4 separate regions of the Homo sapiens genome follow, and all the other regions are reported to be linked to region 1. Evidence: microRNA targets listed by miRTarBase, many of them from high-throughput screens and not tested one by one. Region 1 holds a microRNA gene; each other region holds the end of a gene's coding sequence. Distances are from middle to middle.
Evidence for each region. The annotated mature microRNA hsa-miR-4793-3p reads UCUGCACUGUGAGUUGGCUGGCU and lies in region 1 at 1,809-1,831, shown strand. An mRNA with a match to its seed (bases 2 to 7 or 8) in the 3' UTR can be bound and repressed. Matches are read on the target gene's strand: a 7mer-m8 pairs with bases 2 to 8, a 7mer-A1 pairs with bases 2 to 7 and ends in A, and an 8mer does both.

Region 2: the mRNA of CDCP1 is a reported target of hsa-miR-4793-3p. Seed matches in the 3' UTR shown: 7mer-m8 at 2,213-2,219.
Region 3: miRTarBase lists BTLA as a target of hsa-miR-4793-3p. The part of its 3' UTR that is shown has no 7-base or 8-base seed match.
Region 4: the mRNA of PCLAF is a reported target of hsa-miR-4793-3p. Seed matches in the 3' UTR shown: 7mer-m8 at 1,782-1,788.

The regions. Positions count from the first base shown.
Region 1 is chr3:48,642,880-48,646,031 of GRCh38, reverse strand. MIR4793 (microRNA 4793) reads left to right here and starts at 1,752; the gene lies at 1,752-1,838. CELSR3 (cadherin EGF LAG seven-pass G-type receptor 3) reads left to right here. Exons shown (of 35, transcript NM_001407.3): 23 at 164-290; 24 at 383-589; 25 at 823-997; 26 at 1,204-1,316; 27 at 1,737-1,816; 28 at 2,355-2,478; 29 at 2,949-3,065; 30 at 3,148-3,152.
Region 2 is chr3:45,083,089-45,086,088 of GRCh38, reverse strand. CDCP1 (CUB domain containing protein 1) reads left to right here. Exons shown (of 9, transcript NM_022842.5): 9 at 22-3,000. The coding sequence ends at 451. Among named protein-coding and RNA genes, the nearest start is that of CLEC3B, 58 kb to the right of the region's middle.
Region 3 is chr3:112,463,475-112,466,474 of GRCh38, forward strand. BTLA (B and T lymphocyte associated) reads right to left here. Exons shown (of 5, transcript NM_181780.4): 5 at 492-2,909. The coding sequence ends at 2,634. Among named protein-coding and RNA genes, the nearest start is that of BTLA, 34 kb to the right of the region's middle. RefSeq lists enhancers at 41-180, 2,618-3,000.
Region 4 is chr15:64,363,191-64,366,190 of GRCh38, forward strand. It overlaps PCLAF (PCNA clamp associated factor), which reads right to left. Exons shown (of 4, transcript NM_014736.6): 4 at 1,114-2,885. The coding sequence ends at 2,840. Among named protein-coding and RNA genes, the nearest start is that of CSNK1G1, 8.5 kb to the left of the region's middle.

The sequences.
Region 1 (3,152 bases):
AGTCCCAGCCTTCCCCTGGGGCCCCCACTAGTGCTGTTGTGCAACCCGGACCATGAGGAATGCTGTACCCCAACTCCAGGCACCCTCAGCCCTTCCCATGATCTCTCACAAACCCCTGCCTGACACTGGGTCACAGTTGTGTCTAACTGCCCTGTGGCTGCAGGGCGGAGCAGCATGGTGTGTGGACAGCACGGGACTGCGAGCTGGTGCACAGGAATGGGTCCCACGCACGGTGTCGCTGCAGCCGGACAGGGACCTTTGGGGTCCTCATGGATGCCTCTCCCCGTGAGGTGGGGCTGTGTTCAGTGTCCCAAGGAAGTGGGGGGTCAAAGGGACACGGGGATTCTGCCCAACAACCCATCAACCATCCCTGTCTCTGTAGAGGCTGGAGGGCGACCTGGAGCTGCTGGCTGTGTTCACCCACGTGGTCGTGGCTGTGTCTGTGGCTGCGCTGGTGCTGACTGCAGCCATCCTGCTGAGCCTGCGCAGCCTCAAGTCCAATGTGCGTGGGATCCATGCCAATGTGGCAGCCGCCCTGGGGGTGGCAGAGCTCCTCTTCCTGCTGGGGATTCACAGGACCCACAATCAGGTGCAGGATCAGGGCCAGGGAACTTGTGTCCTGATGACCCTACTGGCCCAGGAGGCCTGGGGCCAAAACTCAGGGTCAGAGGTCAGGGATGCTCAGGTTGGGGCCAGGGTTTTCAGCAGGATGCTGGGGTAAGATATTGTGGTTTAGGGGTGAGAGGTGGGAAGCAGATGCCTGGGGTAGGGGTCAGAGGTGGGTGAGGCAGGAGAGGTCCTGACACGCCCCCCTGCCCTCAGCTGGTGTGCACTGCAGTCGCCATCCTCCTGCACTACTTCTTCCTCAGCACCTTCGCGTGGCTCTTCGTGCAGGGGCTGCACCTCTACCGCATGCAGGTTGAGCCACGCAACGTGGACCGCGGCGCCATGCGCTTCTACCATGCCCTGGGCTGGGGCGTCCCTGCTGTGCTGCTGGGTGAGGGCTGTGACCCCCAACCTCCAACCATCACATGGCCTGACCCCTGACCCTGTCCCCACTCCTGCTCATGACCCCCAACCTCAAACCCCAAGCCATCTATTCATGGGGTTGCTGCTCTGCCCTCACCCATGCTTTCTCCCATACATGGGCTGGTCAGCAGCTCTGGAACACACACCCTCAGTCCTACCCTTTCTCTTCCCAAGGCCTTGCTGTGGGCCTGGACCCTGAGGGCTATGGGAACCCTGACTTCTGCTGGATCTCAGTCCACGAGCCCCTCATCTGGAGCTTTGCTGGCCCTGTTGTCCTGGTCATAGTGGTGAGTGCCCTGGACTTGGTGCCCCCTCTGTACTTCCCTCCCTCATTGGGGGAGGAGGTGCAGTGGACTCAGCTGAGGGCGGTCAGGTGGCATTCTGCAGGCTTCCTGGGCTCGGCCTTCATTTTTTCTGTCCTCTGGTCAGTAGCCACCCCCATTCAACTGGCATGGAGATGGGGGCGCGGGGTCAGAGATTCAGTTGCCTGTCCCTGCCTCTGTCTCTGCTTCTCTCTCTCAGTCCCTCTCTGGTTCCCAATTTCTTTTTCTGTGATGCTAAGCTCCTTTGGTGTGTGTGTATATGTGTGAATTTCTCACTGGTTCTGCCTCTCTCCGTGAATCTTAGTCTCTCTCTGTCTCTCATTGCCTCTCTCTCTCTCTCTCTCTCTGCCCTGCCCGGCCCCACATGTCTGGCCGTGGGTCCAGATGAACGGGACCATGTTTCTCCTCGCTGCCCGCACATCCTGCTCCACAGGGCAGAGGGAGGCCAAGAAGACCTCTGCACTGTGAGTTGGCTGGCTGGAGGAAGGGGGCTTCTCAGGATGGCAGGTCCCTCCTGGGTGGGGTCTGGGGCCCCCAGATCTTCCCTGGTGCAGGTTGGGCTCCAAGTTCTAGATGAAGGAATGAAGTCACACCTGCCCTGACCTGTGGTCCCTCTCTGGCGCCCTCGCTATACTGTAGCCCCACATGTGCTTCTGCCCTGCTGTCTCTCCTTGTCCTCTGGGTCCCCCCAGAGTCTCCCATGGCCTGGGTGGCTCACTTTGCCCCCTGCCCTGTGTGTTCCCACCTGTCTTCCGTGCCCTCCCTTGTGGCTCCCATACCCCTGTGTTTTCCCCACGTGTCCTCATGGCTCTTTGACTGCTCTCCTGTTTCTTTGTGGGACCTCCCATCTCCCCCAGTGTCCTCCAGAGACCTCCATGTTCCCGTGTGAGTTCCTTTTTTTCACGTTTCGTGTGTGGCCCCTGTGTGTCCTCCCGTGTTCCCTGCATGAGTCCTACATGAGCCTTGCATGTCCTCCTGTGTCTTCCCATGTCCCCACAGCAGGACCCTTCGCAGCTCCTTCCTGCTGCTTCTGCTGGTCAGTGCCTCCTGGCTCTTTGGGCTCCTGGCAGTCAACCACAGCATCCTAGCCTTCCACTACCTCCATGCTGGACTCTGCGGCCTCCAGGTGACTCTGGTGCCCCTCCCTTGCCCCAGAACCAGGTGGGCCTTCAGTAGGCTGGGGCCATCCCTAGGCAGACGTTGACCCTAGGCCTGGAGCTGACTCTTACTGGATAACTTTGCCAGGCTGGGTACTACCCCAGACCAGACACTGGCCCTAGCTGCTGCCCCCAGGCCTGGAGCTGACTCTAACTTAGGCACTGATCCCAGACTGAGTGCTGATCTTGGATCGACCTTCACCAACACCAAGGCTCCCGACCCCTTGCTGATCCACACCGACCTTACAGACTCCAGCCACTCCTGCTGCTCCATCCTCTCCCCTGCTGACCTTCCCCAACTCCCTTACTGAGTCCCGCATGGGCTCCTCACTGACCCACACTAGCCTACAGTGACTGACCCCATTGCTGACCCACAGTGACTTATACTGGTCCCTGATTGATCCCTGCCGACTCTGCTTTGACCCTCGCTGACCCACAGGGCCTGGCGGTGCTGCTGCTCTTCTGTGTCCTAAATGCAGATGCTCGGGCTGCCTGGATGCCAGCCTGTCTGGGCAGGAAGGCAGCGCCTGAGGAGGCAAGGCCAGCACCTGGGCTGGTGAGTCGGGATGGGGGCCCTGAGAAGCCAGAGTTTTAGGCTGCTTCAGGGTTAGCTCACACTCTGTCCCTACCACCCCCAGGGACC
Region 2 (3,000 bases), 3.6 Mb from region 1:
TTGTTCCATTTTTCCAAATAGGAAAAAGAAGACAAACAAGGGCCCCGCTGTGGGTATCTACAATGACAACATCAATACTGAGATGCCGAGGCAGCCAAAAAAGTTTCAGAAAGGGCGAAAGGACAATGACTCCCATGTGTATGCAGTCATCGAGGACACCATGGTATATGGGCATCTGCTACAGGATTCCAGCGGCTCCTTCCTGCAGCCAGAGGTGGACACCTACCGGCCGTTCCAGGGCACCATGGGGGTCTGTCCTCCCTCCCCACCCACCATATGCTCCAGGGCCCCAACTGCAAAGTTGGCCACTGAGGAGCCACCTCCTCGCTCCCCTCCTGAGTCTGAGAGTGAACCGTACACCTTCTCCCATCCCAACAATGGGGATGTAAGCAGCAAGGACACAGACATTCCCTTACTGAACACTCAGGAGCCCATGGAGCCAGCAGAATAACTTGATCCATTCCAGACGCTTTGCTGAGTTTCATAAAGCAGGGCACTGAGACACCCGTCCGTGTTCCTAACCAGAAATCCTAAAGAAGAGGAATTATACAGAAGGAACAGCAGGAGGTTTTCCTGGACACCGCCAACTTCACATTGCTCAGTGGACTCATTCTAAGGGCAAGACATTGAAAATGATGAATTCCAATCTGGATACAGTCATGACAGCTCATGTGCTCCTCAACTTAGGCTGTGCGGTTAGCCAGCCTGTAATGAGAGGAGAGAGGCCTGAGTCACCTAGCATAGGGTTGCAGCAAGCCCTGGATTCAGAGTGTTAAACAGAGGCTTGCCCTCTTCAGGACAACAGTTCCAATTCCAAGGAGCCTACCTGAGGTCCCTACTCTCACTGGGGTCCCCAGGATGAAAACGACAATGTGCCTTTTTATTATTATTTATTTGGTGGTCCTGTGTTATTTAAGAGATCAAATGTATAACCACCTAGCTCTTTTCACCTGACTTAGTAATAACTCATACTAACTGGTTTGGATGCCTGGGTTGTGACTTCTACTGACCGCTAGATAAACGTGTGCCTGTCCCCCAGGTGGTGGGAATAATTTACAATCTGTCCAACCAGAAAAGAATGTGTGTGTTTGAGCAGCATTGACACATATCTGCTTTGATAAGAGACTTCCTGATTCTCTAGGTCGGTTCGTGGTTATCCCATTGTGGAAATTCATCTTGAATCCCATTGTCCTATAGTCCTAGCAATAAGAGAAATTTCCTCAAGTTTCCATGTGCGGTTCTCCTAGCTGCAGCAATACTTTGACATTTAAAGAGAAATTTAGAGAATATTCTCATCCTCTAAAAATGTTTAAATATATACCAAACAGTGGCCCCCTGCATTAGTTTTCTGTTGCCACTGCAACCTATTACTTGGTAGCTTAAAAACAACACATTAGCTTATAGTCCTGGGGATCAGAATTCCAAAATGGATGTCCCTGAATGAAAATCAAGGTGTCAGCAGAGCTGTGCTCCTTCTGAAGGCTCTAGGGAGAAGCCGGTTCCTTGCCATTTCAAGCTTCTAGAGGCTGGCTGCATTCCCAGGCTCCAGTGGCTGGTCAAGCTTTTCTCACATGGCATCACTGTGACACTGGCCCTCCCACTTCCCTCTTTGACTTACAAAGCCCACCAGGAAGATCCAGGATAATCTCTCCATCTAAAGTTCCTTCATCATCCTGGAAGAGCCTTTTGCCATGCAAGACAACATAGCCACAGGTGGGGATTAGGACCAGAACATCTTTGGGGTGCTGTTATTCTGCCTACCACACCTTCCTGCCACTGACTCCCACAGGAGAGGCTACAAAATGATCTGGCGCACAGGGATGTTTTGTTTAGCTTGCGGACTCTAACACTTAAAAAAAAACCCAGATCAGAAGATCTGGCCATGCTGGGGCTCACATTCTCACCTAGCAACAACTGGCTGGAGCTGGGCACCAGCTCTGCCTTTAGAAGGGGTGTCCACTTCACCAGGTCACCACAGCCCACACTACGCCCTATCACTTCCCACAATGAGGCTGAGTGTTTGTTTCTACTGATCAATGCCCCTGCAGGTTGCATTTATTGTAATGAAAAAGAAAGACTGGGATTAATCTCTAATCAGGTGAGTAGACCATGAGACCAATGTGTGCTCACATTACCCTTTTTCTTTTTTTTCTTTTTCTTTTTCTTTTTTTTTTTAATGTGAGACAGGATCTCATTCTGTTGCCTAGGCTGGAGTGCAGTGGCGCAATCTCGGCTCACTGCAACCTCTGCCTCCTGGGCTCAAGCAATTCTCCCACCTCAGCCTCCCAAATAGCTGGGATCACTGGCACAAACCACCATGCCCAGCTAATTTTGTATTTTTTGTAGAGACAGGGTTTCACCATGTTGCCCAGGCTGGTCTCAACCTCCTGGGCTCAAGCAATCCTCCTGCCTCGGCCTCCCAAAGTGCTGGGATTACAGATGTGAGCCACCGCATCCAGCCCCACACCCTCATTTATACCAATTACCTGCCCAGTAACTGTGGACTTTTGCTTCCTCACCCCTGCTCTGATCTGGAAGGAGAGGGATTATGTTATAGCTTGTCAGCACAGTCCCAAGTTCAATATTTCTGCGGCAAAAACTTCCTTCAAAAAATAAATGTACTTCATTGTATTCAATGAATTCACCTTGGAAATGCACCGCCTCAACTTGTTCACATGGCATAAATGAAAGGAATTTTATAGTCTCCTAAATGGCGTGTACTGCAAGACCTCTTGAACACTTTCCAGAGGATAGGATATTTAAGTCATGCCCTTGGCGTTGCCTATGGCACCTTTCCCTTCTGAAAGTCTGGTTCCTGCCCAGTGACCCTTGGCCTTGTGAGCCGAGATGCTGACCCTGCATAAAGGGCCAAAGGAGGGCTGCGGCTTCCTTCCCTCACTGAAGAGCCCTTATTTGAATTCACTGTGTGGAGCCCTAGCCCTCCATTCTCGACATTCCCCAACCTCCCAGCCCCTTCCAAGCAGGACTAGGTGCCCTGCA
Region 3 (3,000 bases), 64 Mb from region 1:
ACTGATTGTAACAAAGGCACCACTGAAGTACAGGATGTTGATGATGGGAGAAACTGTGCATGTGTGGGGGAAGACGGTATAGAAACTCTCAATGCTCACCGCTTAGCTTTGCTGAACCTAAAAGTGCTCTGAAAAAAGTTTATATATTTAGCAAAATAGATATGATCGCGCCAGAGAATTCATTCTGGGGACTAGATAGTTTTGGTTGGTGCACAAAACTGATCAAATAAACCACATATACCAAACCTAGCCTCTACTAGTTTTCTCAAATTGTGGACACTGGGAAACATATTAAAATTGGTTGGCATGTCTTTTAAAGATGATGATTAAAGAGCCATTTTCTAGACCTCCTGAATCAGAATTTCTTAGTGCTGCAAGTTAATAGTCTGCAGTTTAGCAAGTTATTCGGGTCGCTTTTATGTGTCAGGGGGTTTAAGAATCAGTATTCTATTCATGTCCACACATTTTGGGGTACAAAATCAGATGCCAAATTGATTTCAAATAAGTTTTAATAACTTTACCTTCTCATTGAGCACAATCACAAGCTTAAAATTTGTGAAAAACCATTAAATTATCTACATATTCTTTTTCTCAAACCCTCTATAAACTAATGAAATAAGCCATGTAAATAATAGTGAAGTAGAGTCATTTGGGAAAATGCATGTATGTCTCTGACACCATTTTGAAAAGGAATAAAAACATAAATGATTTGTGATTTTGGCAAACAGTACAAATATATTAATACATCTTAGAGATGAAATCATTATCAGCATTATCTTTACTATAAGACATACTAAGGATATTTTAAATAAGACAGAAATATTTTGCTTTTAAGTTTGAGAGAATCATGAAGGAACTGTTCAATTTCGTGTGTTCATCTGATAAGAGGACAGCTAAATGTATCCTCCCCATATTTCCTGTTTCTATTTTTAAGAATACCACAAGCAGCTATTCTAACATGTCTTTCTTACATAAGTTGTCCACAAATGCAGCCTGGCTAAAACAGCCTATCTCGAATTGGTTGCTTGAAATTCTAGGTGTAATTGGCAAAATAACAGTGACTCAAAAGAATATTTGCACCCCCAAATCTAAGGAGCTAAAACTTAATGCCAGTGTTACTTAAGAAAATCTCTCCACCACAAAACCTCAGTTTTGTCTTTTTGTATATATACCCCACTTGTATTCTAAACTCCATAATTTCACATATTATTTTCTTTAATGACCCATTTACTCTAGTATTTTGAGCTTCATAAGCAAACTGAAAATATAATGTCAATTTGATCAGTTTCTCGTGCACCATTTCTGTTGTCACCCACCCCACCTAACACACACACACACACACACACACACACACATCACATTCCTTTGTGCAGCAGCTCAGCTCACATATTTGTTGAAATGGATTTTAACCTTTGCTATCCACTTTGTATGAAGACTATTACATTATTCAGTAGCAGCACCTGAGAATTCGAATAGCCTCAAACTGTTGAATAAAATTATAGGCTATTTTTGAAATAGTTTAACTCAAGTACTTTGGAAAGTCCAAAAATCTGAATCCATCTTTTGCTATACTCTTAAGTGGCTGCAACCTCAGTATTTTAAAATAAATGATTAGCAAACTAAAATATGTCACTACAGATGATTTGCCCTGATTCCTTAGTAAGAAGAACAGCAAGATGCAGATGTGGTGAATGAAAGCAAATTGACCCCTACAGACCAATTAAATATTCTGGGTTTTCCTCCATTCCATTAATTGCACTTTAACTTGCTATCAAGTCAAGCATGAAGCAGTTTAAGCTATCTTCACTTGCCCAGTGATACCTATTCTGACTAACTTTTAAACTATTCAGATGCCCATAAGTATATTAATTCAGCAGCATTATGTCACATTCCTATCCATTAGTCTATGTGACCCAGTGAGTCTCTACTTTCCTCATAAATGTGCTATACGTTGACTGCTCCATTAATACCTATATTTGCTTATCAATCTAACAGAGTAGATATAAGCATTTGTTTGCCAGGTATGTGGAACATCTACCCTATATCCAATTGGTATATTCTATATTTTTATTGCACCATTTATTATTTTCATTTTCTTACATCAAGCCTAAAATGATTTCTCCTTTGCATTTAAGAAACACCATTCTTAGACTGACACAGCAAAAATTTCTTATTTTGGAAGACTGACTTGAAATATACAATCATTACTGTATTTATGGTTGGTTAGTCAAATTGGGACATTTTGTTTTCAAGAGTGTGTAGTGAACTGATGCAGGTAACACAAACCTCTTTTCCCTACAAGTCTTTCCAATAGCTTCAAAGGCAAGATCGAGTTTGTATATTGGGTAAAATGTAGCTAAGTTTAAACGTTCTACTATTCTGCTACTCATGATGTCAACCAGTTTTGGAGAGATTTTGTTATTCAAGGCTATAATATAAAAAGCTCCCAAATAAGTTTCTGAGAGAAATTTTAATCATTTATCCTATGGACCCTTAAGACCCAAGCACTAACATGAACATTTCTAAAGTAAAAATTCTCAAATTGAGAAATATTATTTGACATCCTGTTGAGCCCAGACAATGATGTCAACATGCTGATCATTCAATGGTCCCTGTTGGAGTCAGAAACAGACTTAACTCCTCACACATATGGATGCATATTCTGTTGGTGCTTCTTTTACATTTCTTGCCAGTCTTGAGTTCGGTCCAATGACAGAATGGTTCAGGGAAGCATAAACAATGCCTGGTTTGTTTTCTTCCAGGCATGGATTAGAATAAACTTCAGACCCTTCCTGCATCCTGAAACAAAGGTCAGGGTCATTATCATAAATTCCAGTTTCTGATAGCAGTACTTGGGAATTTTGCCTGGTGCTTGCTTCTGTTTGCTCACTCTTAAGGTGAGCATCAACCTACAATAGAAAAAAAGATGGTTTTAAGTGACACTTACGGCCATGGTAGTGCATATTCATTAGCAAACTATGAATGAAAAGCTTAAATGGA
Region 4 (3,000 bases), not on the chromosome of region 1:
ATGATCTGCCCGCCTTGGCCTCCCAAAGTGCTAGGATTACAGGCGTGAGCCACCATGCCCAGTCTTTTTTTGCACTTTTAGTAGAGTCAGGGTTTCACCATGTTGGCCAGGCTGGTCTCGAACTCCTGACCTCAGGTGATTCACCTGCCTCGGCCTCCCAAAGTGCTGGGATTATAGGCGTGAGCCACTGCTCCCAGACTGAAGTTGAATGTAGGCATGTAATTGTTTCTAAAAAATTTGAATCTTGGCCGGCTGCAGTGACTCACACCTGTAATCCCAGCATTTTGGGAGGCCGACGCGGGCAGATCACGAGGTCAGGAGATCAAGATCATCCTGGCTAACAGGGTGAAACCCCATCTCTACTAAAAATACAAAAACAATTAGCAGGGCATGGTGGCAGGCACCTGTAGTCCCAGCTACTAGGGAGGCTGAGGCAGGAGAATGGTGTGAACCTGGGAGGTGGAGCTTGCAGTGAGCCAAGATTGCGCCACTGCACTCCAGCCTGGGCAACAGAGTGAGACTGTCTCAAAAAAAAAAAAAAAAAAAAAAATTCCCAGCACTTTGGGAGGCCCAGTCAGGCGGATCACCTGAGGTCAGGAGTTGGGAGTTGGAGACCAACCTGGTCAACATGGTGAAACCCTGCCTCTACTAAAAATGCAAAAATTAGCTGGGCGTGGTGGCGAGCACCTGTAGTCCCAGCTACTCCGGAGTCTGAGTTAGGAGAATCGCTTGAACCTGGGAGGCAGAAGTTGTTGTGAGCCAAGGTCAAGCCACTGCACTCTGGCCTGGGTGACAGAGCGAGACTCCATCTAAAAAAGAAAAGAAAAGAAAAATAGCAAATGAAGTGTCAGATCCATTAAAACTTGACTTCAAGATATTTTGTTTAAACTACTCCTTAAAAATAAACCTAATTATCAAATAAGTACTTGAACTCAGCTCCCAATTCAATAACATACTGTTTAATAATATCCACCTCTAAAAGACAAAGCAAAAAATATAATCTACAATCATTCGGACTCAAACAGTTTGGAAGGTGTTAAAATCAGGTCAATGCTCTGATTTGTATTTGGAAAGAATAAAATAGGACATAATTTTAGGAAGCACACAAATGGATAGTGTATTGTAAAAATAAGTATGCATTTATTACAAACGTATTTCAGAAAAATATGCCTACTAAAATATGATTACTTTTGACAACAGGCTGCTGCAAAAAGGGTGATGAGGAATATTATACCCACTTCTTCAATTATACCTCTGGTTATGTTGAAAAATGTCATAGTAGCTCTTAGGAGTTTTGCCATGCCTATGGGTTTATGGCATGATTTGCCTTTCATGTTATATTGACTTCCAACTTTAAAATTATATTTTATGATAGCGAATCAAATGCAAATCCTAGGAAAATTTCTTTTAAGAGATGGGATCTGGTTCCACTGTGTGTGCCACCATGCCAGGCTAATTTTTTATTGTTCATATATAAATATATATTTTTTTCTTTTCTTTCTTTTTTTTTTTTTAAGACATTGTCTCACTCTGTTGTTCAGGCTGGAGTGCAGTGGCACAATCTGGGCTCACTGCAACCTCCACCTCCCAGGTTCAAGCGATTCTCCTGCCTCAGCCTCCTGAGTAGCTGGGATTACAGGCATGTGCCACCATGCCTGGCTCATTTTTTCATTTTTAGTAGTGACAGTTTCACCATGCTGGCCAGGCTGGTCTTGAACTCCTATCTCAGGTGATCCACCTGCCTTGGCCTCCCAAAGTGCTGGGATTACAGGTGTGAGCCACTGCACTCAGCCTTTTTTAAAATTTTTTTTTTTTTTTTTTTTGAGACGGAGTCTCGCTCTGTCGCCCAAGCCGGACTGCCGACTGCAGTGGCGCAATCTCGGCTCACTGCAAGCTCCACTTCCCGGGTTCACGCCATTCTCCTGCCTCAGCCTCCCGAGTAGCTGGGACTACAGGCGCCCGCCACCGCGCCCGGCTAATTTTTTGTATTTTTAGTAGAGACGGGGTTTCACCTTGTTAGGCAGGATGGTCTCGATCTCCTGACCTCATGATCCACCCGCCTCGGCCTCCCAGAGTGCTGGGATTACAGGCGTGAGCCACCGCACCCGGCTAAAAATTGTTTTAGAGATAGGGTTTACGCTATGTTGCCTGGGCTGGTCTCCAACTCCTGGACTCAAGCAAACCTCCCTCCTCAGCCTCCTGAGAAGCCACTGTGCCCACCATGATTCTATCCTAGTATTTTATCTTTTTTCTTGTTGTTGTAGAGGCATTATCAACCGTTTAAACCCTCAAGACCAAATTATCTTTACATTTTTTTAAAGAGAAGATATCCATCCAAGGTTTTCCAACATTGCGTATTTGTCCTCCTTGCCAAAAAAGAGGGTAGAATAAGTAATGTTTAATTAATACTGAATTTTTTAATGTGCAAAAATCTAACTCTGCTTTTTAAAGCAAGTAGAAGGAGTGACAATATGGCACCATTCCAATAATCAAACACCAATAAAAATGGCAGCAGTACAACAATCTAAGCAAATCTCAAATACAACATACTTGTAATTAGAACACAATGCAATGACTTGATTTTAGCAAGAACTAGACACTTAATTTGGTAAAAGAAACCAAACAATGCATTATATTGAATACTAAGCTAAGTTACCATAATTAGTCTTACAAATTCTCAAATTTCACAACTACTTTTGAACATCTAAATTTAAACCTAAATTTTTTAATTAAATGCCTGTTCAACAAAGCTAATTGGAACAAACACATTTATGTAAATTTACATTCTAGAATACCAGGGTAAACAAGGAGACGTTATTCAAAGATGAATGAGAAAGTTCTATTCTTTTTCATCATTTGTGTGATCAGGTTGCAAAGGACATGCTCTGTGAAAAGAAGAGAGAACATCAATAGCCATCCAAGTATCAACTGTTTGAAAAAAATAGTTACAAACCTATATAAATCAGGAACATTAATTAACAGTGCAGTAGATCTGGTCTA